Linked DNA regions of Homo sapiens. The protein of the gene in region 4 interacts with the protein of the main gene of each other region in a pairwise test. Each region holds a gene or a part of one and is shown on either strand. Other genes may lie near its edges.

Region 1 (7,680 bases), on a different chromosome or scaffold from region 4:
GATCCGCCCGCCTCGGCCTCCCAAAGTGCTGGGATTACAGGCGTGAGCTACCGCGCCCAGCCCCGAGTTCTTTCTAGGGTGGGAGGCTGTGAGTCTGTGACATCACGGGGATATTCTTGGGCTGGTTCCTTGTCTGTAAGAGCAACGAAGGGACTTTGTACCCTGCAAAGTGCAACTTCCGGGGATGATTGGGAAGTTGAGGGGTTGAATGCATTCACACCAGAGTCACTCTCAGCCCAGACTCTCCGGGTCACCTCTAAGGCTGTGCACTAGGTGGGCGTCAGAGGTATTACAGGTAAAGAAATGGCGGCTCAGAGGGAAGGAGAGACTTGCCTAACTTCAGGGCAAGCTAACGCTTGATTTCAACTTGATAAATTTCTGAGTATGCAGTGGGTGCACATAGCAGAGACAGGTAATGAGAAGTTTTCTTTTTTCCTTTTCTTTTTTTGTGGGGGGTGGGGACAGAGTCTCACTCTGTCACCCAGGCAGGAGTGTAGTGGTGCAATCTCGGCTCACTGCAATCTCCCCCCACCCCACCTCCAGGTTCAAGCGATTCTTGTGCCTCAGCCTCCTGAGCAGCTGGCACTACAGGTGCACGCCACCACGCTGGGCTAAGTTTTGTATTTTTAGTAGAGATGGGGTTTCACCATGTTCTACGTTTCACCATGTTGGCCAGGCTGGTCTTGGACTCCTGGCCTGAAGTGATCTGCCTGCCTCAGTGTCCCAAAAGTGTTGGGATTACAGGCGTGAGCCACCGCACTCGGCCGAGAAGTTTTTCTGATTAAAAAAAATTTTAAGGCACACACTTCAGACAGTGGCTGTGAAGGAACCCTGATGTGTATCTAAACTGTCGCCTCGTGCACATCACCCCATTACTTACTCTGTGCTAAGTGCTGTCATGCATTACATCATTACTCCTTAGAACAGGCCTATGAGGTGGAGTCTGCATTAGGCCCATTTTGGACAAGGACACCAATAGTGTGGGAGGTGGTGTACCTTGCCCAAGCCCCCAGCAGGTAAGTGGTGGTGGGGATTAGGACCCAGGTCACTTGAGTCCATATCCTGGGCTCTTAGTCCCACTCTGCCTGGCTGCCTGCTGCTCCGTGAAGCCAACCCTGGACCTAGACCTGGACCTGGATCGTCATAGCCCAGATCCCTGTGTGCTTCCCAGGCTGCCTTGTGGCAGGTGGATGGTGCCCCTCGAGATGGGCAGGGCACCATCTGGCCACACGTGCCTCATCGTGATGGGTCCAAAGGTCTGGGCAGGCCAGGACACACCTCTGTCAACCAGAGCAGTGACTCAGAGCTGTCGGCCTCAGCCGTAAGGGCAGGGAGAGGGGGCAGGGGCTTGGGTTGGGGTCTGCCCTATTTGGGGCACAGCAGAGCGACCAGGCTGACTCCCATGGTCTGAGGCAGAGCGGGGAGCCTGGAGCCTTGGGTGGGGTCACCTGCCTCTCTTCTTACTGGTTAAGCCACCAGCGATGACTAGTGCCTACTTCCTTCAGAGAGGAATCTGACGGCTGTGGCAGGAAAGTCAGGGGCAAGAATTGTTGCACAGATATGCTAATATCTCAGTTCTGCCACTTTCTGTAATCTCGGGTGGTGATCTAATCTGTCTAAGGTCTATTTTCCCATCTGTAATGGGGAAAAAAATCATCCCTGGAGTTATTGGCAGGATTAAATGAGGTGATATTAGTAATGCAATAGTCACCACCATGCCCCCACGAAAACTAACATTCATTGAGACCTTATTGTGTTGGGCATTGTGCTCAGGACTTCAAATGGGTGACTTCATTACATCCTCACCATCACCTGCCCAGGTAGGCATCATGTATTACCTGCAACTTACAGATAAGGAAACCGTCTTAGAGAGGTTATGCAACTTGCCCTGCCAAAATTGAACCCATTGTGAATATACAGTAGATAAAAAAAATAATAAAAATAAAATGAAATTAAAAATTGTGGCTGGGCAGGGCGGCTCACACCTGTAATCCTAGTACTTTGGGAGGCCGACACGGGTGGGTCACCTGAGGTCAGGAGTTTGAAACCAGCCTGGCCAACATGGTGCTCAAAAAAAAAAAAAAAAAAAAAAAAAAATTGAACCCAGCAGTCTGACCCCAGAGGAGCCTGGTCTCTGGTCTCTTAACCCCTGCATTGTAATAGTCGCATCGAGCGCTACCCAGTGTCTGCAGCATCCTTTCCTCAGAAACACTTCTCAAAAAGAGGAAAAGCCTCTTGGGTATCAAAACTCAGAACTGCATCATAGCTCCCAGAGCCTGGCTATACGCAAAGTGGTCTTTTTGGTCTTTTTTTTTTTTTTTGAGATGGAGTCTTGCTCTGTCACCCAGGCTAGAGTGCAGTGGGACAATCTTGGCTCACTGCAACCTCTGCCTCCCGGGTTCAAGTGAATCTCCTGCCTCAGCCTCCTGAGTAGCTGAGATTACAGGCACCTGCCACCGTGCACAGCTATTTTTTGTATTTTTAGCAGAGACAGGGTTTTACCATTTTGGCCAGGCTGGTCTCGAATTCTTGACCTGGTGATCCACCCGCCTCAGCCTCCCAAAGTGCTGGGATTACAGGCGCGAGCCACCAGCCTATGCAAATGTTTTAAAATGGATGGATGCTGGACTCAATGGATCTCAATTCCCTTTTTTCTTTGCCTGGGGGGAAGCTCAGAACCTGATTCATGACCCATCTCTACAATTACCCAGAACTTGAAGGCAAATATATATATATATATAATTTGTTTATTTTTTGAGAGAGAAGCTCTTGTTGTCTAGGCTGGAGTGCAGTAGCTATTCATAGGCACAGTCTCACTACTGATCAGCACCTGAAGTTTGACCTGCTCTGTTTCTGACCTGGGCTGGTTCAGCCTTTCTGAGGCAACCTAGTGGTCCTCTGCTCCTTGGGGTTCACCATATTAGTGCTGAATTTAGTGTGGACACCCCATCAGCATAGTGCCCTACAGCACAGAAATCCTGGCCTCAAGCCATCCTACTGCTGCAGCCTCCCAAGTAGCTGGGACTACAGGTGCACAGCAGTGCCCCCAGCTCAAGACAAGTATTTTATGGCCTCAATTCAGGCGTAGATTACCCTTATTTTTCTCACTTGACTTCCCTTCATCTGGGTTTCTTCTTTTTATGCTGGTGGCGTATAAATTTTGTTACTATGTTTTACATTTGGAGAGTTGGGAAGCAAACTATTAAAATGCCTGACTATAGCAACTGCCTGATATACAGTCAACACAACCCTTAACAACGGGGACACCTTCTGGGAAATGTGTCATCAGGCAATTTCGTCATTGTGTGAACATCACACAGTGACTTACACAAACCTAGGCGGTACCACCTACTACACACCCAGTCTCTATACCACCGCCTGTGCTCCTGGGCTGCTAACCTATGCAGCCTGGGACTGTACCGCACGCTGCAGGCAACTGTAACACAGGGGTAAGTATTTGTGCATGTAAACACAGAAAGGGTGCCATGAAAGATGATATTATACTCTTATGGGACCGCTATTATATGTGTGGTTCGTTGTTGACCAAAACACAGATATATGGTGCATGACTATATATCTATTGTGAATTAGACATGTCCTCTGCCCACAAGAAGAGGGCCACCCAATGGTGACGACTCAGTGGTGTGCCTTAAGAAAGTTGTGCCCAGGGTCCCCTTTCTGTGTCAACTGTGATGGCTGGGCCAAAGTGAGGATAAGAAGGACTTGTGGCTGAGCCCCTTCGGGAGGCCACCACATCGGGCAGCGCTTAAAGCCAGCCTGGGGGCCGAGCTCCGTGGCTCATCCCTGTAATCCCAGCATTTTGGAAGGCCGAGGCAGGCGGATCGCCTGAGGTTAGGAGTTCGAGACCAGCCTGGCCAACATGGTGAAACCCTGTTTCTACTAAAAATACAAAAAAAATTAGCCGGGTGTGGAGGCCCACGCCTGTAATCCCAGTTACTCGAGAGGCTGAGGTAGGAGAATTGCTTGAACCCAGGAAGCAGAGATTGCAGTGAGCCAAGATTGTGCCACTTCACTCCAGCCTGGGTGACAGAGCAAGACTCTGACTCAAAAATAAATAAATAATTAAAAAAAAAAGGCAACTTGGGAGTGGATGAAGCCCCTGGGGACGGGCAGATGCCTTTTGAGGGTCTCAATGCGGGGTGAGATCAGTGTCAACAGGCTCGAAAGTGGGTTGTCCAGGCTCAGCTAGCCCCCAGTCCTCCACGAGAACCTCACAGGGGCTGGTCTGGCCACACAGTGTTTGATTGTTACACTGTTTTACCACTTCCCTCTCCTGACTCAATCCCCCACTTGTCCACAGATCCCCTGTCACTGAAGACTCGTAGCAGGGAGGGGACGGGGGCTCTGGCATCACCTTCTGACTGTCACCGTCCCCGCCTCCAGCCTGCCCCAGTGTTGGGCCTTGTTCCCAGGTCCTCTGGGCTCAGGGTCGGCCAGGCCCCTTCTCCTGTGGTGTGGGCCTCCAGCCCCAGGAGCGCCAGGAGCTCTGGCGCCTTGGTCCCTTCCTCCTGTCCGGCGCCCCCAGCTGTACTCTGCCTCATTAGGAGTCGACCCCTCCTGGGAGGTGTGGTCTCTGGCAGGGTTAATGATTGCTCAGTGGAGGTGGAGATGGTGCCAAAGTCTGCTGGCCACATAGCTGCAGGCCGCAGAGGGTGCCCACCTGTGTGCCAGCGCCTGTCCGGCGCCTGCCTGCCGCCTCCGTGGCGAAGGGGACACAGGTAGGGACTATCCAGCTCATCGGGGGTCTCTGGGCCAGAGAAATGTGGGGGTTGGGGGGATCCCTAGAGCCAAGGCAAGCTTGGGGGTCTTTAAAAGTCTCCCCTGAAGCTGGGCAGGGGAAGTCACACGCTAGATGGGGCAGAGCCGGGTCAGGTCCCAGCCTGCTGTGAGGCCTGTTTCTTTGGTAAACATGGGATAATAATACCTCCTTCCCTGGGGGCTGATGGCCCCCTTCCCATCCAAGTCCTCAAGGGATGATTCTTCAGAGGATGGAAGGGAGGCAGGCACCCCAGGGAAACGAGGTAACTGGCCTGACCCCTTCATAGGATGCTCAGGGGTTGAGGACGGGGAAGCTGACCTGGGCTCTTACCCCAGCTGCTCGGTTCACATCCCAGCTCCACCCTGACCTTGGTGGGCTACTTAACTCTTCTGGGCCTCCGTTTCCTCATTTATCAAATGGGGATGAGAAGAGTTCCAGAAAGGGCCTGAAAAGCCCTGAGGCAAAGGTGAGCATGTGGCCTATGACCGAGCCCAGTGCCACCTCAGCCAGTGCTAGGAAGTGTCAGGCAGGGACTGACCCAGGCTGGCCCCAGCTCTGCCCAGTCCGGGCCTTGCACATCTCTCTGCCCTGGTAGAGGAGGTGGTGACCCAGCTGAGAGTCGGGGCCATGCTGCGTCACTCAGGCAGGCCTGTGCTGGGTTGGGCACCAGGCACAAGGCAGGGTCCCAGTGAGCACCGAGGTCCGGCAGATGGAAACAAGTCATGGCCCGTGTGTAGACCCCTTGATTTTTATCCTCACTCTGCTTCTCAGCAGGGGAAACTGAGGCCTGGAGAGGGGAGAGGGCTTGCCTGGGGTTGCACAACAAATATGTGAAATGCTGCCATCTGAACCCAGGGCTGTTTGAGTCTGTATGTGTCTGCTGGGCCAGGTGGCCTGGGCCATAGGCACTGGGAGGGCCCGTGGCGGGGAGCTGCGTGCTCAGGTCCCACATCCTTGCTCCGGGCACCCAGGCTCGGCTGGAGTCCGCTCTGTGGGTGCAGGCACGGCCTCCTGGATCAACGGAGCCCAGACCAAGGCTTGCCCAGGGACCCCTGGATTTGGAGGCAGCCTGGGTCTAACCTGCTGCCCCTGGCTCACCCATCTCTGGGCATCTATGAGCCTCGGTTTCCTTGGAATAATAGGATAGGATAATTCCTGCTTGGGAACAGCTGTGAGAAGTAAATGAAAAAGCAGAAGTGAAAGTGCATGGCGAGCTGGCCGTGTAGCGGTGGCGGTGCTGGGGGAGCTCTGTAGCATCGTGGCTGAGTGCACCCCGGGGGCTCCCCACACTGAAGGAGGACCCACCTCCCCACCCTGACCCTCCTGGAGGTCCTGGGCAGTCCGGGTATCCTCACTCCCAGTGGTTCCAAATTCTAGAAAATCTTGGCACCGTGGACTGCTCTGAGATGCGGCTGAAGCCTCCTCTCAGCCAAGGCTGAAGAGCTGGCACCTCCTGGGCCAGGTGGGACCAGTGAGGATTCCTGGAGACTACACATCTCATGGCGTGGGGGCCAGAGTCTCCCTGATTCTTCTCTGTGTCCTTTTTGGTCCTTCCCTAAGCACTTTCTTTTTGAGACGGATTCTCACTCTGTTGCCCAGGCTGGAGTGCAAGGCGCTATCTCGGCTCACTGCAACCTGTGCCTCCCTGGTTCAAACGATTCTCCTGCCTCAGCCTCCTGACTAGCTAGGATTACAGGTGCACGCCACCACGTCTGGCTAATTTTTTTTTGTGAGATGGAGTCTTGCTTGTCGCCCAGGCTCCAGTGCAGTGGTGCGATCTCAGTTCACCACAACCTCTGCCTCCTTGGTTCAAGTGATTCTCCTGCCTCAGCCTCCCGAATAGCTGGGATTACAGGTGTGCGCCACCATGCCTGGCTAATTTTTGTATTTTTAGTAGAGACAGGGTTTCACCATGTTGGTCAGGCTGGTCCAGGCATTTTTTGAGAGCAGGGAAACAACAGTAGTGGCCGGAGGGCTTGAGAACAAGGAAGCAGTAATTTCTGGAATATAGATAGTCCCCATTTTAAATTACTTTATTTTATTTTTATTTTTTGAGACAAGGTCTTGCTCTGTCGCCCAGGCTGGCGTGCAGTGGCGCGATCTCGGCTCACTGCAGCCTCAACCTTCTGGGCTCAAGTGATCCTCCCACTCTAGCCTCCCAAAGTGCTGGACTGTGTTTGCTCCTTTAAAAAATGAGAACTATTGGTATTGGCCTGGACTGCCACCACACCTAGCCAAGAGTTCTCTTTTTTTTTTTTTTTTTTGAGACAGAGTCTCGCTCTGTCACCCAAGCTGGAGTGCAGTAGCGGCATCTCGGCTCACTGCAAGCTCCGCTTCCCGGGTTCACGCCATTCTCCTGCCTCAGCCTTCCAAGTAGCTGGGACTACAGGCGCCCGCCACCACGCCTGGCTAATATTTTTTTTTTTTTTGGGGAACTTTTAGTAGAGACGGCGTTTCACCATGTTAGCCAGGATGGTCTCGATCTCCTGACCCCGACCCCGTAATCGGCCCGCCAAAGTGCTGGGATTACAGGCGTGAGTCACCGCGCCCGGTTAATAGTTCCCATTTTTAAAAGGAGCAAACAGAGAAAAGAGCCCAGGGGTACGGTTGTGCAGTGACTGGGACCTTGTTTCACACCCATGCGTTGGCCTGAGGCTGCCCCAGCAGGGAAAAGCGGGTGCCTGTCCGCAAGTCCCAGCCCAGGGGCAACTCCATTCACTCGGTTTCCATTTGTGCCTTGCTCCTGCCCCTTGCTGGGGTACCAGGAAATGAGGAGCCCAGAGTGGGGGCCACCAACTGCCTGAACACAGCTCCACAGCTGATCTGGGCCTTACAGAATGGAGAGGATTTGCATGTAGGCAGAAGGCAAAGAAAGACATTCTGGGCAGAGGGAATGGTTT
Region 2 (7,022 bases), on a different chromosome or scaffold from region 4:
TGGGGCCCACCCTGCCCCCCGAGGCCCATCGGGTCTTGCCTGTCGGGGGCTTTGCTCACTGTGGCCCCTCAGGCAGTCCTGCCCAGTGGCTCCCACATCCAGTAGGTGGGGAAGGAGTGGTACGGCCCGCTGAGGGCCCCATGAGGGCCGGGTTCTAAGGGGAATCTGCCTTCACCGTCTGGTCAGCCCCGTGTCCTCTGCACCAAACATCTGGGGCTGAATCTGAGGACGGAGCCCGCAGTAGCTGCTGTTCTTCCACACTTTGTGTCACCCCCAAAGCTCTTAAAAACAGGCATTTTCAACTTTCCCATTCAGGCTTAAAGAAACCCTTTCCCAACAAAGAACTCAAACCCTTGGACTTTGGCATGACAGCTCAGCAGGCGGTGAGCCTGCAGGTTCCCCGATCCACCAGAAAGGAGGAAGCTGCCAGTGCGTCCCTGGCTCCCGCTCCTTCCCTCTGCCCTAGCCCTGCACAGTCCAGAAGGGGACCCTGGCTCTGTCCCTCCCCAGGGCTGGCTCCCAGAGCCAGATAGGGGGTCCCGGCTGGGATGGTCCAGCACAAAGCCCTCGGGGATGCACTCAAAGGCCGCCCTCCAGGGACCAGGAGCTTGGCACAGGTCACCTGGTCTTTCCCTAAGGCAGAGCCTTCCATGGGGAGACATGGGGAGATTTCTCGGCCCCCCACTCCTCACCCCAGAGTCCATGGGGAGATTTCTCGGTCTCCCACCCCAGAGTCCATGCCATCAGCCTGGAGTCTCTGTCACAGCCCTAACCACCCCCAGCACAGCAGCACAAACGGCCAGGCCCATTCCCAGGATGTGCCGCTCCCCATTTGTGGAATTCCCACAGCCCCTCCTGCTCTGCCCGCCCCTCCCTCCTTCCTTTCAGGCCCCTGTGGACGGTGCACACACGGGAACCCCTTGGGCACCCTGGCTGCTCTCCTGACTCCACCTGGACACGGCCCCAGGCTCCATCTCAATTCTTCCTAGACTGACGACACGACACTTTGGAAATGGACTTGACACACAGCCAGCCCCAAGGGAAGGCTGGCAGTCGGATAGAACAGGGAGCCCAGAGCTCAGGCTTGTAAGGGCACTCGCCAATGTGAGGGAGCAACCCAGAGCTGAACATGGTCATCACACGGCCAGAGTGCAAGGACCACCTGCTGCTCCTGCTTATCCTCCACAGGGTCCCCTGCTCCTCAGACACACACACACATCCCGCTGCTCCTGAAACACCCACACATTACCGCCTGCCACTCACAAACCCATGCACAACCCCTGCCACTCACACACCCACACACTCCCCCTGCCCCTCACACACACACACACTCCCCCTGCCCCTCACACACACACACTCCCCCTGCCCCTCACACACACACACACTCCCCCTGCCCCTCACACACACACACTCCCCCTGCCCCTCACACACACACACTCTCCCCCTGCCCCTCACACACACACACTCTCCCCCTGCCCCTCACACACACACACTCCCCCTGCCCCTCACACACACACACACACTCCCCCTGCCCCTCACACACACACACTCCCCCTGCCCCTCACACACACACACTCCCCCTGCCCCCTCACACACACACACTCCCCCTGCCCCTCACACACACACACACTCTCCCCCTAACCCTCATCCACACTTTTTGCCTCGGGCACTTCGCTCTGGCTATCCCTTCCCTGGACATGCTTCCCCCTAACCCACAGGGCTGGCTGCCCCCTCTGCCCCAGGGATGGCTTCCTGACTGTCTTTGGTCCTTGGTGCCCAGGAGTGCTGCCCCATGGGATATTTGGGTCTCATTTGAAGTGGGATCCCCACTGCCTACAGGGCGTGATGGGCACTGAATGTTTATTGAATGAATATTAAACTGGAGAGAGCTCCTCCATTGCCCAGAGCGCTGGCTGCTGCAAAGTCCAGCATTTTGGGCTACCTCGATAAGACGGATGAGACCATTCAAGCTCCTAAAAGTGGTTGGTATGCTAAGGGTATTGGCTGCCTGTGACCCGAGTTCTATTCTGTGTCCCAGGAGGGTGCCAGGTTGGGCAGTTCCAGCACCAAGTCAGGGCCTGCCCAGGGTGTGTCTGCATCTTCCGAGGTCTGGCAACATCAGGATGGGGCTGGGTTTGTCTGTCTTATTCCAGAAGGCATATAGCTAAGGCATAGCTAAGATTTCAGCTGACAGTGGAGCATGTTTTAGGCCAGGTGAGCGTGGTTTCTCTCTGGGCACATGACCCACTCCTGAGAGAGCTCTGTGTGGGGCAGATGGTGCTCACCATGCTGAGCCCAGATCTGCCAAAGTGCTCTGAGCCGATGCTGCAATTGCTTGTCAATGATCCCACTTTGCAGGTTAAGTCTGCCACTCCTTGGCAGGCGGCGCCTCTAAAGCCATTGTCATCCAGAAGTAGGTGTGCTGCTCACTGGAGGCTCTGCAGTAATTTAAGGAAATAATTCAGCCGAGGAGCTGAGACAGCCTCTTCCTGGGCCCAGTGTCCAGATGGTTTTGGATGAAGCTTACACATGGGAAGCCAATGTTTATCCCTCCACTCCTTCACTCTCCCATGTGTGCATTCATCCATCCATTTGTCCATCCACTCATTCGTTCATTCCTCCTTCACCCACCTGTGGGTGCATCCATCCATCCACTCATCCATCCATCCATCCATCCACATATCTACCCATCCTTCCGCCCATCCCTCCATTTACTCATCCATTCACCCATCCACTCACTCATCCATCCATCAATCCACTCATCCATCCACCAACCATTCACGCATCAGCCATCCATCCATCTGTCCATTCACTCACTCACTCATTCATCCATCCATTCACTCATCCACCTATCCACTCATCCATATATCCATTCATTCACTCATCCATCCATGAGTTCACTCACCCACCCATCCATCAATCCACTCATCCATCCATCCATTCACTTATCCATATATCCATTCATTCATCCATCCATCCATCAATCCACCCATCCAACTATTCACTCATCCATTCATCCAAGCCATCTATCCATCCACTCATCCATCCATCAGTCCACTCATCCATCCAGCTATCCATTCACTCATCCATCCATCAATCCACTCATCCATCCATTCACCCATCCATCCATTCACCCATCCACCTATCCATCCATCCACTCACTCACCCATCTATCAATCCACTCATCCATCTATCCATTCACTCATTCATATATCCATTCATTCATCCATCTATCCATCCATCCATCCATCCACCCATCCATCCATTCACCCAAGCCATCCAGCCATCCACCCATCCATCCATTCACCCATCCATCCATCCATCCACCCATCCATCCACTCGTCCATTCACCGAAACCATCCATCCATCCAAACCATCCATCCATCCATCCATCCATCCACTCATCCACCCATCTGACCATTCACTCATCCATCCATCCATCCACTTATCCATCCATCCACCCATCATCCATCCATCCATCCATTCACTCCATTCATCCATTCGCTCATCCACCCTTCCATCCATTTACTCATCCATTCATCCATTCATCAATCCACGCATCCATCCATCTATCTATTCACTCATCCATCCATCCATCCACATGTCCATTCACGTGCTCAGATCTGCAGGACTCTGCTGGGGACAGGCACTGGGGACACAGGAGGAATAAGACAGACAACCTCTGCCATTGTGGCATCAACCTGGTTGAGCCAAAAGACCTTGGAGGAGGAGGTGTCCTCAGGAGCTCAGAGGAGGAAGGCTCCGAGCTCAGGAAAGGTGGAGCAGGAGAGATGCTGAGTGTGAAGGGATGAAGCTGGGGTGAGTGCATGATTTGGGGGAGGGTGGAGTCTGGCATCCCAGGACCTGGTACCCTGAGACCTGGCACCCTGAGACCTGATACCCTGAGATCTAGCACCCTGAGATATGGCACTTCGCGACCGGGCACCCTGAGGCCTGGCACTTGGAGATCTGGCATCCTGAGACCTGGCACCCTGAGACCTGGTACCCCAACACCTGGTACCCAGAAACCTGGCACGCCAACACCTGGCACCCTGACACCTGGTATCCTGAGACTCTTGTCTCAAGGGTGGGTGAGGAAAGCCTTGGTGGCTTCATCGTGCACTGAGACTCCTGGTTGTGGGACTCAGCCCAGACGCTGGGCAGATGATGTGCAGGATGGGAACCCCAACTCTAAACATGCCCCAGTGCAGCCCCTGGCTCCTGGAGAAGCCGGCAGTGGGGGTGGCCACGCTGGGAGAGCTCAGCCATTTCTGCAGTAGACATGAGGCTGGTTGGGTGCTGGAGCTTGGGCCCAGACAGGCATCTTAACAAGCCTGTGTGGTCACAGGGAGCGCCACACACGCCCAGAGGCGGGGAGCTCCTGGGGTGGCAGGGAGTGGGCTGGGGGGGCTGGCGGCCAAGAGTGACTCACCATCCCTGTCTCTCTCTCAGCCTCTGGCGGAGCTGCCAGGTACCCACAGGGAGCCCTGGTGGTTCCTTCCCTGCCCCGATGCTATCAGCACTTCCCAACCTTTGCCCCTTTCCTCAGGATTCTCCCGGGCGACACCTTAGCTCCAAACGCCATGGATTGTTTTATAGCCTACAGCTGATTCTCCGTGGGCAGCTCCTGGAAAATGAAACTTCACCCCTTCAGGGCCAGACCCTCCCCTGTGGAGACTCCTGGGAGAGTCTTTGCTTCCAGGCCTCCCGTGATGGCTCCTGACTCCAAACCCACTGAGCATACCTCTCCTGCCAGGACTGGGGTCCACAGGGCCCACTCACTGGTCCTCTCCTGGGAGGACTGGGTCCCCTGGGGACTTTGCTGACCACCCTGGCCTTCTAGGCCATCCTTGTCCCCAGAACCTCCTTTCCTATGCTTCTTCAAGGAGAACCTAAGGGCAGTTCAGCTGGAGTGGGTAGCAGATATGGTGAAGGGGTAGGTGCTGTGCGCATTGAGGGATTCCTGCCTCCAGGACCAGAGCACATGCAATAAAACCATTCACCCCAGGAGGTGAAGGTGACCCACAGCTGCCCTCACAGCCTGGGCACTGAGTGCCCGGTGGAAGGCTGCACCTGGGAGAAATCCACAGCTTAGGCAGGTGGTCTAGGCAGTGTCACACCCCCAGTGGCGGAGGCTCCCTGGGACACGCTGGGTAAGACAGCGGGGGTCCGGGAGTCAAGTGTCGGGTGAGGACGACCTCCTGCACCCACCCAGACAACAAGGAAGCACCCAGTGCCTCAGATTTGGGGCCGGGAGCAGGGAACCTGGCGCTCAGGGATCTGGGTCTTGACCCTGTCCAGTTAAGGAGGAGGTGCTGGAACCCCAAGGCTGAAGCTCCTGCAGAAAAGCATTCCCACACTCCCACAGTGGGGGTAACGCCGCTCAGAGGGGGGTGGGGGGGCTGCGCCGCTCAGAGCAGGGGGCTGCACTCCTGACCCTGTGCCCTAGCGTCCTCCTGACCCTCCTACGGCTGCGCGAGGCACTGCAGACTCCAGATACCCGTCTCGCTCCTGCCTGCCCTTCCAGCCAGGGTTCACCAAGATGTGGGGCGGCCTGGGCCTCCGCCATCACATCCCTCAGCAACACAAGCTCCACTTCGAGAGCCTGCCCCCACCGCCCCCACCCAGCCCCACTGTCCTGGTTTCCCCGTGGGCAGTCACTGCCGCTGCTCAGGTCCTAACCCTCAAGGCGCCACCTCCCTGAGCCAGCGCTGCCCAGCTCTGGAGTTCAGGCCCCATGGGATGTCAGCTCCCACACCTCCTGTGCGTCCACGACCCAAGGGGTACCCACGGCCAGACGCCTGGGGACAAATAGACCCAGCTGGGCCTAGAATCCACTCCCGGCCCCAGCCCCTCCCCGGTTTCCGACATCTCAAAATTGTAACTCCCCCAGTTCCCTTTTGGTCGGGTCCTGTCGCTCATGTGTGGCTCAGAGCTGCAGGGCGAGGTCAGCGCAGCAGAGCCCCCCGAAGGGTTGAGAACAGGATGGGGCCAGGAGGTCTGGCCCCTGCTGTGTCACTGATGACCCTGTGACATCCCCACTCCTGCTTCAAGGAGGCCCTGCTGTCCACCGCCCTGATGCCCAAGGGAAGCTCCCCACCATCCTCCCGGAATCTCCCCGGTGCCATTCTCTGCCCCATGGCCAGGCAGTCGTCTGAGAACTCAGATCTGACCACATCCACTCCTCACCACGACGCTAGGTGGGGACCAAAGTCCTCCAAGGCCTGTAGCTGAGTTGCTCGGGCCTCCCTCTGCCTCCCCAGGGACCCACCCTAGGCCTCCTCCTCTGGCTTCTGACACCCCCGCCTCCCTCTCCTTCCAGGGGCCCATTGCTTGCAGTCCTGACACCTGCCACTGCCTGGATCCCACCCCAGGGCCCCCACCCAGTGCTGCCAGGCCTGGCAGTCTCTGCAAGGCACAGCCTCAGCCCCCAGAGGAAGCCCAGGAAGGAAGGAAAGCCTGGCCCAGGGTTCCCAACACGGACGGTGCAGGGTGAGGCGGGGATTCTGGTGGGCACCTAAGGCCTAGAGTGGCCCTGGTGCGGGTGGCTGCAGGCTGGGGGCCCCCAAGGGGCACAGGAGGAAGCCCCCTCACCCTGCCTGAGGCAGACACTAGGCCCTGCCGCCTCCACTGCTAAAGACTTCCTCGTCCTCTCAGTCTGGGAGGTCTGCGCTGTGGAGTGGCTCCGTGGCCTCGGCCCTTGCCTCCCCTTCTGCATTTTAAAAAGATGCTGTAAAAGGCAGGGGAACCCCAGTGCACACAAATAGGGGGCTTGTGGGGAGCCCTTGCCGGAGCCAGACACGCGGCCTGAGGCTGGTGGGCCAACAGCAGCACCTGTTCCTTGCCCAGGCTCCTGGGCCACCTGCTGAGGCCCCAGCCCCAGTGTTTGCTTGAGGCAGCTCTGGCCCTCTGGCCATCCTCTGTCCCAAGCTGCCTGGAGTAGAAATCTCCTGGGATCAACATTGCTGTGGGTTTCAGGGTACCCGGACTCTTATTTCCCCAACCAGGTTACAAATGGCTTG
Region 3 (7,022 bases), on a different chromosome or scaffold from region 4:
ACAGAAAGGAGTCTCCTCATTTTATGGATGGAGAAATCAAGGCCCTGGAAGCTTGTTCTAAGCCATCCAATGAGTTAAGGTTTTCCAATGCTTCCAGTTAGATTATAATTCTAACAGGTCTGACTAAAAGCCCTTTCTGGTAAATTGTACAATCTTTAAAATAGCTATCCTTCTACAGCAGCTTGGAGTCCCTACACATTAGAACTCCACTAAATATTAAAATTAGTCACTAAGTCTGAGCAACCTAATTGACCGCTCTGTTGAATCTTACCCTTTCCTATTTCAGCTCCACCGGCCTTGACTTGAAAGTAGGTAACCAAATATAGTTCATCTAGGAAGGGGGAAATTGGTAAAGGCAAGAAATGATATAAATAAGCTGCCAGACCAGGATCTTGTGTGAACACGATACCAGCACCTCCAACACCACATAGAAGCTGAAAGAGGGGTTGAGCCTCTCAACCCTTGTCCTGGGAGCTTCAAGTATGGTGAGGCACAACTTTTATTAAAAGAGTTTACAAACAGAACTATTAAACACACACACACATACACACACACATATACACACACACCCCAAAAAAAGATACACTCTCCACGCCCACCCACAGATAGGAATGTTGGCTAAGGGATAATCCCTCAATAACAGGGACTGATGGCATTGATCCCCACAGCCTAGAGCTGAGACAGGCTCTGTCTTCATCACTGTCCTGGGGCCAGCACGTCTAAGGCAAAAACCTGCTGGGAAGATTAAAGGAGCTCCAGAAAGGAAGAGATCTTTCAGGTTGAGGTTTTTCCCTAAGGTCCGTGAGGCAGGTCCCTAGAGTTAAAGGCACATTATTGGAGAAAAGGCCCCTGGATGTAGAGAAGAAAGGACTCTTCTCTGGCACCAACAGCAATAAAATTTACTGGTTGAAAACATCCTGCATCTGGGAGAAGGAAGAAGCTTTATATATAAATCTCTTCTAGTTTCTTGTTCTCAGTTGAGTTGGCAGCTTATCTCTTTTCTAGTCTCTTTAGCTCTCAGTTGAGTTGGCGGCTTGTGTAGTAGAATAAGAAAGAGCTGGCAACCAAAGTTGGAGGCTGGACCGCAGGAATCTGGAATCACATGCTATGGGCTGGCCTCAGGAGGTGAATGAGTTTCCTGCAGTGTTTGGCAGAGGCAGGCCTAGGACTGCTGTGTGGCAGTGACTGATTCCCCAGAGAGAGCAAGGATAGTTTCTCACTGGCACCCAGGGACACCAGTACCTGTAGGATAGAGAACAGATGATAGAACAGAACATGAGGCTCAGAAATGGTGGTGTCTGGGGCAGGTGCGGAGGACTCTCATTTACCCAGGAATTCCCACTCGAGAAGAGGAAGAAAAAGGAAATGGGCTCTTGGGGACTTGGAATAGACTGAATGGCAGAAGAGAAACCTTGGAGATAGGAATCATCAGGACCAGAAGTCTACTTCCATTCTCTTTGGTTATAGACCATGAAACCAAGGCACTAAGGGACACATATACTTGTCCCCAGGAAGACTTGATGAATGCAGCAGTAACTCACAGTAAGCCAAAAGGTCTAATTCCTAGCCTTCAATGCAGACCAGTGAGTTCTAACCTCATTACCACCAAGAATCCCATTAATTATTTTCCCCATGGATTGCACAAGATTCCTATAGGATCTTCACCATCGGCCAGGCAAGGTGGCTCATGCCTGTAATCCCGTACTTTGGGAGGCCAAGGCGGGCGGGTCACGAGGTCAGGACATCGAGACCATCCTGGCTATCACGGTGAAACCCCGTCTCTACTAAAAAAAAAAAAAATACAAAAAATTAGCTGGGTGTGGCGGCAGGTGCCTGTAGTCCCAGCTACTCGGGAGGCTGAGGCAGAATGGCGTGAACCCGGGAGGCAGAGCTTGCAGTGAGCCAAGATCGCGCCACTGCACTCCAGCCTGGGGGCGACAAAGTGAGACTCCGTCTCAAAAAAAAAAAAAAGATCTTCACCATCCTCTCAAATTTCTGCTCTGCATGAACTTCCCAATGCTACCACTTTGAGATGTCATAATTTATATTACCATATGTAGATATCTGTGATTTCCAATGGGCTTTTTTTTTTTTTTGAGACAGAGTCTCGCTATGTCACCCAGGCTGGAATGCAGAGGCATGATCTCCGCTCACTGCAACCTCCTCCTCCCAGGTTCAAGGGATTCTCTTGCCTTAGCCTCCCGAGAAGCTGGGATTACAGGCGCCTGCCACCACACCCAGCTAATTTTTGTATTTTTAGTAGAGACAGGGTTTCACTATGTTGGCCAGGCTGGTCTCAAACTCCTGACCTCAAGTGATCCGCCCACCTCAGTCTCCCAAAGTGCTGGGATTACAGGCAAGAGCCACAGAGCCTGGCCTACTGGACTCTTTATATACTGAAAATCGCGGTCAGGCAGGGTGGCTCACACCTGTATTCCCAACACTTTGGGAGGCTGAGGCGGGTGGATCACTTGAGGTCAGGAGTTCAAGACCAGCCTGGCCAACATGGTGAAACCTTGTCTCCACTAAAAATGCAAAATTAGCCAGGTAAGGTGGTGTGTGCCTGTAATCCCAGCTACTTGGGAGGCTGAGACAGGAGAATCACTTGAACCTGGGAGGCAGAGGTTGCAGTGAGCCAACATTGTGCCATTGTACTCCAGCCTGGGCAACAGAGCGAGACTCCATCTTAAAAATAAATAAGTAAATAAATAAATAAATAAATAATAAAAATACAAAGATTAGCCGGGCATGGTGACAGGCACCTATAGTCCCGGCTACTCAGGAGGCTGAGGCACAAGAATTGGCTGAACCTGGAGGCAGAGGTTACAGTGAGCTGAGATTGCGCCACTGTATTCTGGCCTGGGCAACGAGTGATATTCAGTCTCAAAAAAAAAAAGAGTGGCTCACGCCTATAATCCCAGCACTCTGGGAGGCCAAGGCAGGTGGATCACCTGAGGTTGGGAGTTCGAGACCAGCCTGACCAACATGGAGAAACCTGTCTCTACTAAAAATACAAAATTAGCCAGGCGTGGTGGCACATGCCTATAATGCAGCTACTCGGGAGGCTAAGGCAGGAGAACTGCTTGAACCCGGGAGGCAGAAGTTGTGGTGAGCCGAGATCATGCCATGCACTCCGGCCTGGGCAGTACGAGTGAAACTCTGTCTCAGAAAAAAAAAAAAGGAAAAAGAAAGTTGCGCAGAAGAGGAAGGATAAAGTAGTGGTTAAGAGTACGGGCTCTGGACTCAGACTTCTGAGTTCAAAAGCCCAATCCTACATACTGTCCTTGTAATTTGGACAAGTTATTAAATTATTTGTGCCTCAGTTTCCTCATCTGCAAAATTAGGATAATAATAGTTTAAACCAGATAATAAAGGTAAAATGCTTAGCATCGTGCTTTTCTCATGGTAAGTCTAAAAAAAAAATAGTCAGCACCTTCATGGCACACAGAGTAAAACTACTCTATCTCAGCATCTCTTAGTCTTCCCTCATCTCCCTCCTGCACAGCCTCTAGAAGAGATCAACTGTGGTCCTTGAGATCTCAGACATTTCCCAGCCCATTGGAGCCCTCTTCTAGCTCCCTTCCCTCCTCCAAGGCAGGAGATGTAACTAGAAAACTCACTCCAAGACACTGTCCCTGGGAGAAACACGGCATAAGTTTCTCCATGTCCCGATTCCAATTCCTTACAGATGATCTCAGAGAAATGTTGTCAACTATAGGGGCCCTGATCATCATGGTTCATAAGTGCTGTAGGGTATACCTGATGGATGCCAGGCTCCTGTTGCAGGCTCCGGAGGGCAATGAGGGCAGCCTCCTTCACATTTGGCTGGGGGTCTCCACATGCCATTTCTAGGAGCCGCTGGGGTACTTCGCACTGTAACAGCTCCTCTCCCAAACCTTCAGGTCCCAAGTTGCCCAGAGCTGATGCAACATTGCGCCGGATACCAGCCTGAGGATCTCCAAGCAGCTGGGTCATACTGGGCACTGCAGCTGCCAGGGCAGGTCCCAGAGGACCAGCCTGGTAGGCTGCATTGCCCACAGCAAAGCTGGCACTGCACCGCACAACAGGATCCTTGTCTCCAAGCCCAAGCAGCAGAAGGCTGAGCAGTCCAGACTGGCTCTGCAGTGCCCCACGCAGGGCCATGCTGTGTTGGAGCAAGTGTCCCAGGAGCCTATAAGTGTGTGCCCGCACAGAATTCTCTGGGTGGCCCAGGAGGCTGCGCAGGGGCCGATAGGATTCATCAGAGCCAGCCAGAAGCTCTTGGATAAAGGACAAGTGGCTGGGAGACAGGACCCTGGCAGTATGGGCCAGCAGAGAGAGAAGGTCGGAGGTCAACAGTGGCTGGTCACTCAGGAGGGCAACTGAGAGAAACGAGACGATGGTTCTAGGGGAGGCAGACACTGTGTTCACAAACTGGTTGAGAGAGGTGGGATCCATGAGGGCCAGGCGTGTGAGAAGGCTGATGGGCAGCTCCACTTGCATCAACGGAAGATGGTAGCAGCAGACCTGAGAGAACAGGAGGTAAAAGGATTCAGGGAGAGAGAGAGTATATGCAGCTATAAAGAAGCCCAAAACCTGGGAGAGAGAAAAGCCAAGCTATGGTGAGAAATGCCACAGAGAGCTGGAAGTCCTGCCCCACAGCACTCCACATGAGACACAACGTGGAGCCTGAGAGAGCAGGTTCTTTCCAAGATCATTCCTTACTTTGCAAGGGCTCAGTCTCTGCCTTCAAAGACCCACTGTGAAAAAACAAAAAGAAACAACAAAAGAACAAAGACCCACTGTGCAATGCCAAGAATTGCCAGAAACATGATTCCTGGCCAAGGAGGTGAGTCTTCAGTGCCTAGACTAGGATGTTCTCCCCAATGAGCACCAACAGAACCAGGTGATGGACTGATGGAGAGGAGGAGGCACCAACCCAGCTCCCACCACATGCCTCCACCACATGCGCAGGTCTGAGTACTGTCTCCACGCCAACTTTTGAGTCAAGCCAGCTGTTCCATGCTTACAGGGGCCTAGAAGAGCCCTGGAGCTGCTGGGAAGTAAATTAGAGGATACAAGGTTGGCTATCTTCCTCTCCCACCTTCATGCTAGCTGCCCAAGTACCTGCAGCAGATGGGCTGCAACTTCTGAGTCCCTGAGGTCGGCCAAGACACCTATAAGGAGGTCAGCATCCATGTCCAGCGCAAAGGGGAAGCAAAGGAGCTGGCAGACAGAGAGCACCACGACAGGGAGAAACTCAGACCCATGAGGCCTAAGGAGAGGAATGTCGAAGAGACTTGGTCTTGTTCACTTAACCTTTATCATTCCTCCCTCCCTCCTCCAATTCCTTTGCCCAACTCCCCTTCTACAGTCTCAGCCACTACTTAGGTTTCCAGCCTAAACCTGATCTCATCTTTCTTGCTTTATAGCTCAATCTGTCAGTAACTTCTTTCCTGCCTTCTTCTTTCTCCCTCCCCGTTGCTGACTCTGTGGCTCTCTTCTAGCTCAAACTCACGCCTGGCGCAGTTGATTCAGGAAGCTGGGGCAAAGCAGATGCTTCAGGATGGACATGAGGATACTTCCATGCTGGGACAGGCAGCTCAGGCATAACTGGGGCTCCTGGGTAAAGGTGGCCATGGCCAGGCTCAGCAGGGCTGCCATGCCTGGTAACACCAAAAATGGAGACCCAATGGAACAGGCAAGACGCCCAGATACCCCTGCTTCCCCACAGCTCCCAGGGCTACACCTATTCAGTCCCTTCCCCATCTTAGAGCAGCTCTAGTGCAGACACTGCTTCCTGTCCCCAGGCAAAAGCAAAAAAAATAAACCTCTGTGGGTTAACCCAGTTCTGGGCTGCCTCCTCTTGAAGAGAGATCAATGCACTCCCAAAAAGGATACTGATAGAAAGATACCCTGGGGAGAAATCAGTGTCCAGTCTGGCTCAGGGCTTGGTGGACTGGATAGCGAAAGCTCCCCTTCCTGTGCAGATGCCTCCTCGGGGAGCCTCAGGACCATGGAGAAGCGGTGCCACAAAACGGTCCACATTTCTGAACTGGACATATCCCTGATTAGGCTAGCCTTCCCCTGCTAGAGATAAAAGTGAAAGAGGGCGGGGGGAAAGACAGAAGTCAGGAATCCAAATGCTTTTATTCATTCCTGTCCCTGACTTACAAGTAAAGGAAGTCCCAGAAATAATTCCTTCCGCTTTCCCACCTAGTATTTCCCTGTCGTCTTATTTCATTTTCTTATCAAACCTTAACCCTCTGACCTCACAACTCATGTGTATGTCTGCTGAAACCCAGGGAATTCATTTTATCTCCCACTGGATCCCAGGGGACGCAGCGAATGGTTTCCTTCAAAGGGTCAGTACTGAGGGCAGGCGGGGAAGTTCCAAGGCTATCACAGGCACAGTAGCTTGAGAGGGAAGGCTGTGGGTTGCTTCTTCATTCCTCTGGTCCAGAGGCTCCCCAAAATGCCCAGTTCCTCTCTCTTTACTTCCCATCCATCCCAAGATCCATCTGTACCTCAGTGAGGAGCTGCAACAGAAGGATAAGGAGGCCATCATAGAATCCACAACTACCTGGTGGAGTCAACCGAACCTGTCAGAGAGAAACATGAAGAATGCAGGTGCCTAAGAGGAATGGGGTGTCCGTTAAACCAAGGCAGGTCAGTGATGGTGCCATGGAGGGAACAGATTTGAGAGTCAACCGGAAGGTAGAATATATGGGGCCTGGGGGAACCATTTCGGTGGGGGAATAATGGGGAAGAGAGAACAGTCACTGATGACTCCCAAAGTTCTGACTTAGACTTCTGGATGAGTGTTAGTGCTATCACTAGTGATACAACCTCTCTGAAGGCTAACTTAGTCTAGAAAAAGCAGATGAGTATTATTACATTGGTGTGTCTATATTTCAAGTGTGTTGTGGGATAACATGTGAAAATGTTTTATAAATTATAAAGAATTCAGCCACTGAGGTAGCTCACGCCTGTAATCCCAGCACTTTGGGAGGCTGAGGCGGGGGGATCAGGAAGTCAGGAGT
Region 4 (7,022 bases):
ACCCCCTGGTCCATAGAACTCTTAAACTTCTTGATAGACCATGTCCTGATGACACGGCTCAATGCTTCCCCAGAGCTCAGGGAATGGAGGATGCGTGGTAGTAAGAGGCGTGGGAATCTTGTCTGGGAAAGGAACAATGATCGGATGTCAGAGGAATCTGAACTCCTGCCCACCCAGGAGGCTTCTGGGAGTGAGAAGGTCCACCCCGAGGCATCTGCCCAGAGGACTGGGCAGCATACACTCTCACATGGAAGAGATCAAAGGCTGACCCGGCTTCAGTCCTGGCCACACCCTGACCCCTGCCTTTACCCATAGGCGCCATTGCTGATGAGCTTAATGGTCTCGAAGTCCTCTTCAGAGGGTGTCTTTTTAGATGGCAGAGATGCCCCATGGCCCTGGAAGACAAGGGAAAAGGCAGGAGACAGGCATGCTTCTCAGAGCCCATATCCTTGCAGAAGCTGTGGCTCTAGCATCTTCTCAGCTGTCAGCTCTAGTGCAGTCTCCTGCTCATTCTTCTGGGAGTAGAATGACTTCTCAGTGTTTGCTGTCACCAACTCCCCCATCCCTTCCTCAGATATTCTCTTAAAGAGAATTCATAGCTCTTTGCTTCATAGGGCCCAGGCTCCAGGAATGGGGTAGGAGCTCAGGGTTTTTACCTCAATAGAATCATCTGTCTCTGGAGTGTCAGGACTGTCACAGCTGCTCAACTGGGCCATTTCTGGAAACAAAGATACAAGAGAAGAATGTGCGTGGCAATGTCAGGTATCTCAGCAGTATCCTCAGATCACACAACAGGTGCATGTAGGGTAGTCATTAATGCTTTTTGCATCAGCCTAGGATGTGAATTCAGTCCCATGGCACTATACCCAATGTAGTCCCAGCTTTTGGATCAGGAAACAAGCCAAATCCTACTGCTACTCCCATTTCCAGAAGTCCATTGCCATTCACAGGGCCTGGCAAATTCTATAAACTGGGGACATTTCCTGGAAAACAGGGCCTGAAACTGGGTTACTAGTTCCCATCCTGCTGGCCAAGACTGCTTCACTGGATGGGGCTGGGAAGCACAGAAGGCAGGAGCAGGATACCTACAGACCAGGGACTTGGAAGCCCATGGTTGCTGCAGGGGTTCAGCAGGAAGCCCAGAAGAATGGCAGTATCCTCTGAAGCCCTGTGTTGGACTACCCCAAAGACACAGGAAGACCTGTAAGGTGGCCAAGAGTAGAGGCAAGTTGCAGAGGAGGTGACCATTTTTGCAAATGTGATTGTGGCCCTTTGTTGTTGACCTCTTTGGAACTGAGGTTCTAAATGCAACTCAGCCGGGCCAATGCAATCCAGGTTGGGATCTATCAGGCAGATGTGAACAGCAGTTCCAAAGTAAAGACTGTTTTGTCACAGAGATCACAGGGTATCTCCTAAAATCCTGAGGCCCCCGGGGCCATGTTGTGTCCATGTCCAAGCTAAGTCTCTTTTCCAAGCAGCTTCCCTGCTGTTAGAGCTTGCCAGCAGCAGTGGGGCCTCTTTGCAGCCACTAGGCAGCATGCTCACCTTCTAGGGGATCCCGGGTGAGGCCCAGCTGGCTAACGATGTAGCGGGGAATGTCACATTTAATCCCTTGTCCCTCTTTGGCGTGGCCCTCAGCTGCTTCTAAAAGGTGGTAGAACTCTTCAGGGTCAAACTCCTGTACCAAGGGAGAGAGATAGTCAGTGGTGACAGATATAAGCGAAAGCTGCTGGCATCTTTGGTTTTACAGCATATAGTAGACTGAGATGAACAAGACTTTCTCTGTGATAGGACACTCCCACCCCTGAATATTCAGAAACAACATGATTCAGGGATCACAGGAATGGGGACAAAGATGTCTTACAGGTCACCTCCAGATTGGACATGCTAAGCATATGCTGTCTTCCTGGCAGTAAGAACTAGAGGTTTTACTCTAAAGAGAGCTCAGCCTATTGATCTGGTCCCATGCTTTCCATCAGCCAGGTGGCACTGTCTGGTGTATTCAGATGCCCAGTCCACAGCTGTCCTGGCACACACTCAATTATGGCTCACAAGAGCTTTGGCAAAGCCCTACTGGTGCATGTATACCTTCAAATATTTACTGGGCACCTCCTATGTGCTAGAGGCTGGAAATCCATTGAAAAGCACAATCCTTGTCTGCACATAATAACTGAGTGCCTACTAAGTGCCACACACTGGGTTAAACCCTCTAGCAACTCTTTGACCTCACTGAGGAAATCAAGGCTTTCAGGGATGCACTGATTTGTCCATAATCACAGTAGTAGGAAGGAACAGAAAACCAGCATTCAGCCCAGGTCTGACTCCAAGCCCCTGCTTAGCCAAGGACTTCATGTTCCTGAGGGAGAGGCTCTCTGCTCTATCACAGCATAGCCTCTGCCCTGAACTCTGTTCTCATTCCCTGTGGCCTCACTGTTTTGGAGAACTGTACCTATCTGGATATAACCTACGCCAGACCTGGAAGTCCTTTTAACTTCTTATCCTTCCTTAGCTCCTATTTGGTCAGAATGTCTCTCTCATAAATACCCCTCTAATCCACCTCTTTCTCTCTATTATCCTACCATTCACTGTCTGAGTTCTGGCCACCCCATCTCACATGAATTTGCTTTGAGTACCTCTCCCCTGATGTCCCTGGCTCATCCTGCCCTCTCTTCCAATTCACTATCCATGTTGCAGCCAAAGTAATCTTTCTTAGGACTAAATCTGATGTAATATTTACACAGAAATAAATAGGAACCAATTACTGATACATGCAACAACATGTATGAATTTCTACAAACATGCTGAGTGAAAGAATTCAGAACATACTACAGAAACCACACAGAAACATGGTTTCATTTCTAGGAAACTGTACAAAAGGCAAACCCATCCCTAGTGAAACAAAGCAGTTAAGTTATTGTCTGGGAGCAGGAGGAAGAGAGGACTGACTTCAAAGGGGCACAAGGGAACTTATATGACAGAAATATTCTCTATGTCAGCTGTGGCCACGATTCTACAAGTGTGTATTTGTTAAATCTCAATGAACTGTACCATCAAAGGGATATATTTTATTGTATGAAAATTATACCTTAATAATATTTTTTAAGAAAAAAGTAAATGCGGCCATGTCACATTCTTACCTAAACTTTCTGGTGTCTCCAAGTGGCCGTAAGGGTAATGAAAAACTCCAGAGCCGAGAACCCGACACCCTCCATGACCCTGTCACAGCCTACCTTCCAGGCTTACCCCTCAGCACTTCTTCAAACCCACCCTGTGCCCCACTGAATGCTCCTTCCCATGCTCCCGATCTGGGAAACTTAGACTCATCCTTCAGTTTGCTGAATAAGCCTCACGTCCCCCAGGGAGCATTCACTGAATGTTCCTTCCAGGGAAGACTAAAGCACTTCCTTTTCCAGGTTCCCGTTACGCTGTGTACTGACCTCAACTGCAACACTTCTTGCAGTATTGTAATTACTATTTACATGTCCTCATGCCTCATGCTTCCCAACTCCACTGTAGAGGAAACATCCCAAGATCAGAGACTGTGCTTTATTCATGTCTGTATCTCCAGTGTCTAGCAGGAAGTAGGTACTCAGTCAAGTATTGCTGAAGATAAAATGAAGGACTCAACTTGTACAAACTAAACTGGGCTATGCTCCTGACGCTTCTCACCCCCAAGACCCCCACTGATGTGAGCCCTGCTCATGTGGGGGTGGCCTAGACTAATAATTCTCCCTGCCGCATCCCCTCAGGACCATACATTTGTCCTCACAAAAACCTGTTTAGTCCCCCAATGGTGGCAAATCATATTTAAATAAGGACCTAAGCAACAGAAATGGCAGTGGTTACCACCACAGTTTTGCTGTCATCAGGATACTTCCTCTATAGTCCTCCTCTAAATCTGCCCACCTGACTTTCCTAGAGTCCACTCACCAGGCATTCCAGGAGACGTGCTGGGCGGGCAATGATAATCATCAGCTTTTTCACCAGCTGCATCACAAAAGCCACTTCTGAGCTCTCTGAGCGCTCATGAGCCTATAGAGAAAAGAAGCGTTGCTTAATCTATTGGCCCAGTGTGGCTGGGCTAAGCAGGACCAGACAGGGCAGAGCTGACTCCAGGGAGAAACAATTCGGTAGCATAGAGAGCTCCGCAAAGCAAGGAACTCAGAGAAGGCTGGCTGGCTGTGAGAGGGAGCGAGTTGCTCATAGGGAACCATTTCTGCTTTAGAACACTACATGACACCAAGAAATGCCACACAGACATACAGCTGTACCTGCTCCTCCATCCAACAAGCCTCACTTACCCTCCAGACCCTAGCTCAAGGGGCAGCTCTCAATGGTGCCTTCACTGATGTTCACTTTCCACCCTAGACTGTAAGGAGTAGAAAGACCTCAAAGCTGAGGAGTCATATGACCAGAAAGTACTTCAGAAGGATCACTCTGGCTGCAGTGTAGAGAGTACACTAAAGAGGGCAAGGCTAAATGCAGGAAAACCCATTAGCAGGCAACTCTAATAATTCAGATGAAAAAGGCATAGGTCAAGGCAGAAGAATGCAGACAAGGGGATAGACGTGGGTTACTACAGAAGCAGATAAGGGGTGAAAGAAGCACGACAGAAGGCAACTACAACTTCAATTTTAGGAAAATTACAATGAATAAGTGAAATAGTAACTATAAGAAGCCATTTAGGTGATAGGTAAAGAATGTACTGCATTTGGTTTTAGAGAAAGAACAGCTAGGCAGAAAAGATAAGCTCAGTTCTGGGCGTGCAGTTTCAGGCACCTATATGAGAGTCTCTTGGGTATCTGCTTGGCCGATGGGCCTTTCTCTTTTTTCCTGAGAACTGCTCTGGTTTCTAGGAGCCACATTTGTACTGTGTGTCTGTACCTTCCCTCCCACCTCTAATAGCTGACCAGAGAGGATCACTTTCCTAGGAATTTAAAAAAGGATAGAAAGACAACTGTTAACGTCAGTGTGGCAGAACCGTTTAAGAACTGTGAAAAGAGATGCATACCTACCATGGAAATAGAGGAAAAGATGCATACAGAAAAAGGAAGAATGAAGACTTCCTGAGCTTCCTGGAGCTTCTGGTTTCTAGTTCTGGTTCCTTCTTAAGGCCTGGTTATATCCCTCGCTTCAATTCTCTAAGACCTACTCCTTTTACTCTTATAATGTTTCCCTTTACTGTTTAAACTATTCTGAATCAGTTTCTATTACGTGCAACCAAAGAATAAGAACCAATATAGGGAAGTCAAAGTGGAGGAGTCCAGCAGGCAGCTGGGTGCACTGATCTGAAGCTCAGGAGAACAGTAAGAGTGGCAGCCACATGTGGGAGTCCTCAGCGTAGAGATGACAACTGAAGACATGGGAGCAGGTGGCAAGACATCAGAGAGAGAGTGGAGGAAAGAGAAAGGGGAGACCAGGCATGCCGGATGGTGCCCTGTGACACACCAGTAGGAAGAGGTGGGCAGCAAAGGAACTTGTGAAGAGGCAGCAAGAGTGGTGAGAACAGTGAATTGACAACTGGGGAAGGAAGTTTAGGAAGTATTCACTGTGCTCCACCGAGAGGTGGCAGAAGATGGGAACTGAAAGTGGCCACAGGATTTGGCAATTGGCCAGTGAGTTCCTTGGTGAATTTTGCCTGAACAGTTTTGGTAGACTGGTGGGAAGGGAAACTGGAAGGCAGAAGATTGAGTAGTAAATAGGATACAAGGAAAGAAAAACAGTAAATGCTATTGTGAATAGTGCCGCAATAAACATACGTGTGCATGTGTCTTTATAGCAGCATGATTTATAGTCCTTTGGGTATATACCCAGTAATGGGATGGCTGGGTCAAATGGTATTTCTAGTTCTAGATCCCTGAGGAATCGCCCCACTGACTTCCACAATGGTTGAACTAGTTTACAGTCCCACCAACAGTATAAAAGTGTTCCTATTTCTCCACATCCTCTCCAGCACCTGTTGTTTCCTGACTTTTTAATGATTGCCATTCTAACTGGTGTGAGATGGTATCTCATTGTGGTTTTGATTTGCATTTCTCTGATGGCCAGTGATGGTGAGCATTTTTTCATGTGTTTTTTGGCTGCATAAATGTCTTCTTTTGAGAAGTGTCTGCTCATGTCCTTCGCCCACTTTTTGATGGGGTTGTTTTTTTCTTGTAAATTTGAGTTCATTGTAGATTCTGGATATTAGCCCTTTGTCAGATGAGTAGGTTGCGAAAATTTTCTCCCATTTTGTAGGTTGCCTGTTCCCTCTGATGGTAGTTTCTTTTGCTGTGCAGCAGCTCTTTCGTTTAATTAGATCCCATTTGTCAATTTTGGCTTTTGTTGCCATTGCTTTTGGTGCTTTAGACATGAAGTCCTTGCCCAAGCCTATGTCCTGAATGGTAATGCCTAGGTTTTCTTCTAGGGTTTTTATGGTTTTAGGTCTAACGTTTAAGTCTTTAATCCATCTTGAATTAATTTTTATATAAGGTGTACGGAAGGGATCCAATTTCAGCTTTCTACATATGGCTAGCCAGTTTTCTCAGCACCATTTATTAAATAGGGAATCCTTTCCCCATTGCTTATTTTTCTCAGGTTTGTCAAAGATCAGATAGTTGTAGATATGCAGCGTTATTTCTGAGGGCTCTGTTCTGTTCCATTGATCTATATCTCTGTTTTGGTACCAGTACCATGCTGTTTTGGTTACTGTAGCCTTGTAGTATAGTTTGAAGTCAGGTAGCATGATGCCTCCAGCTTTGTTCTTTTGGCTTAGGATTGACTTGGCGATGCGGGCTCTTTTTTGGTTCCATATGAACTTTAAAGTAGTTTTTTCTAATTCTGTGAAGAAAGTCATTGGTAGCTTGATGGGGATGGTGTTGAATCTATAAAAATTACCTTGGGCAGTATGGCCATTTTCACGATATTGATTCTTCCTACCCATGAGCATGGAATGCTCTTCCATTTGTTTGTATCCTATTTCACTGAGCAGTGGTTTGTAGTTCTCCTTGAAGAGGTCCTTCACGTCCCTTGTAAGTTGGATT

What was found.
Region 1: the proteins of MAST2 (region 4) and CDHR2 interact in binary tests that used the Homo sapiens proteins (3 or more experiments, as listed by UniProt).
Region 2: the proteins of MAST2 (region 4) and SLC9A3 interact in a two-hybrid assay, tested with the Homo sapiens proteins (one study listed by IntAct).
Region 3: the proteins of MAST2 (region 4) and STK36 interact in a two-hybrid assay, tested with the Homo sapiens proteins (one study listed by BioGRID and IntAct).

What each region holds. Positions count from the first base shown.
Region 1 is NC_000005.10:176,544,676-176,552,355, forward strand, and holds the start of CDHR2 (cadherin-related family member 2 precursor), read left to right. Parts: upstream 1-4,666; 5' UTR 4,667-4,739; intron 4,740-7,680. UniProt on the Homo sapiens protein: Intermicrovillar adhesion molecule that forms, via its extracellular domain, calcium-dependent heterophilic complexes with CDHR5 on adjacent microvilli. Thereby, controls the packing of microvilli at the apical membrane of epithelial cells.
Region 2 is NC_000005.10:514,440-521,461, forward strand, and holds part of SLC9A3 (sodium/hydrogen exchanger 3 isoform 1 precursor), read right to left. Parts: intron 1-7,022. UniProt on the Homo sapiens protein: Plasma membrane Na(+)/H(+) antiporter. Exchanges intracellular H(+) ions for extracellular Na(+) in 1:1 stoichiometry, playing a key role in salt and fluid absorption and pH homeostasis.
Region 3 is NC_000002.12:218,696,086-218,703,107, reverse strand, and holds the end of STK36 (serine/threonine-protein kinase 36), read right to left. Parts: intron 6,582-7,022; coding exon 6,507-6,581; coding exon of another isoform or gene 6,474-6,506; exon of another isoform or gene 6,111-6,473; intron 6,070-6,110; coding exon 5,895-6,069; intron 5,646-5,894; coding exon 5,498-5,645; intron 5,255-5,497; coding exon 5,107-5,254; intron 4,507-5,106; coding exon 3,760-4,506; intron 1,243-3,759; coding exon 1,099-1,242; 3' UTR 393-1,098; downstream 1-392.
Region 4 is NC_000001.11:46,016,606-46,023,627, reverse strand, and holds part of MAST2 (microtubule-associated serine/threonine-protein kinase 2), read right to left. Parts: intron 4,033-7,022; coding exon 3,931-4,032; intron 1,679-3,930; coding exon 1,546-1,678; intron 719-1,545; coding exon 657-718; intron 396-656; coding exon 310-395; intron 1-309. UniProt on the Homo sapiens protein: Appears to link the dystrophin/utrophin network with microtubule filaments via the syntrophins. Phosphorylation of DMD or UTRN may modulate their affinities for associated proteins. Functions in a multi-protein complex in spermatid maturation.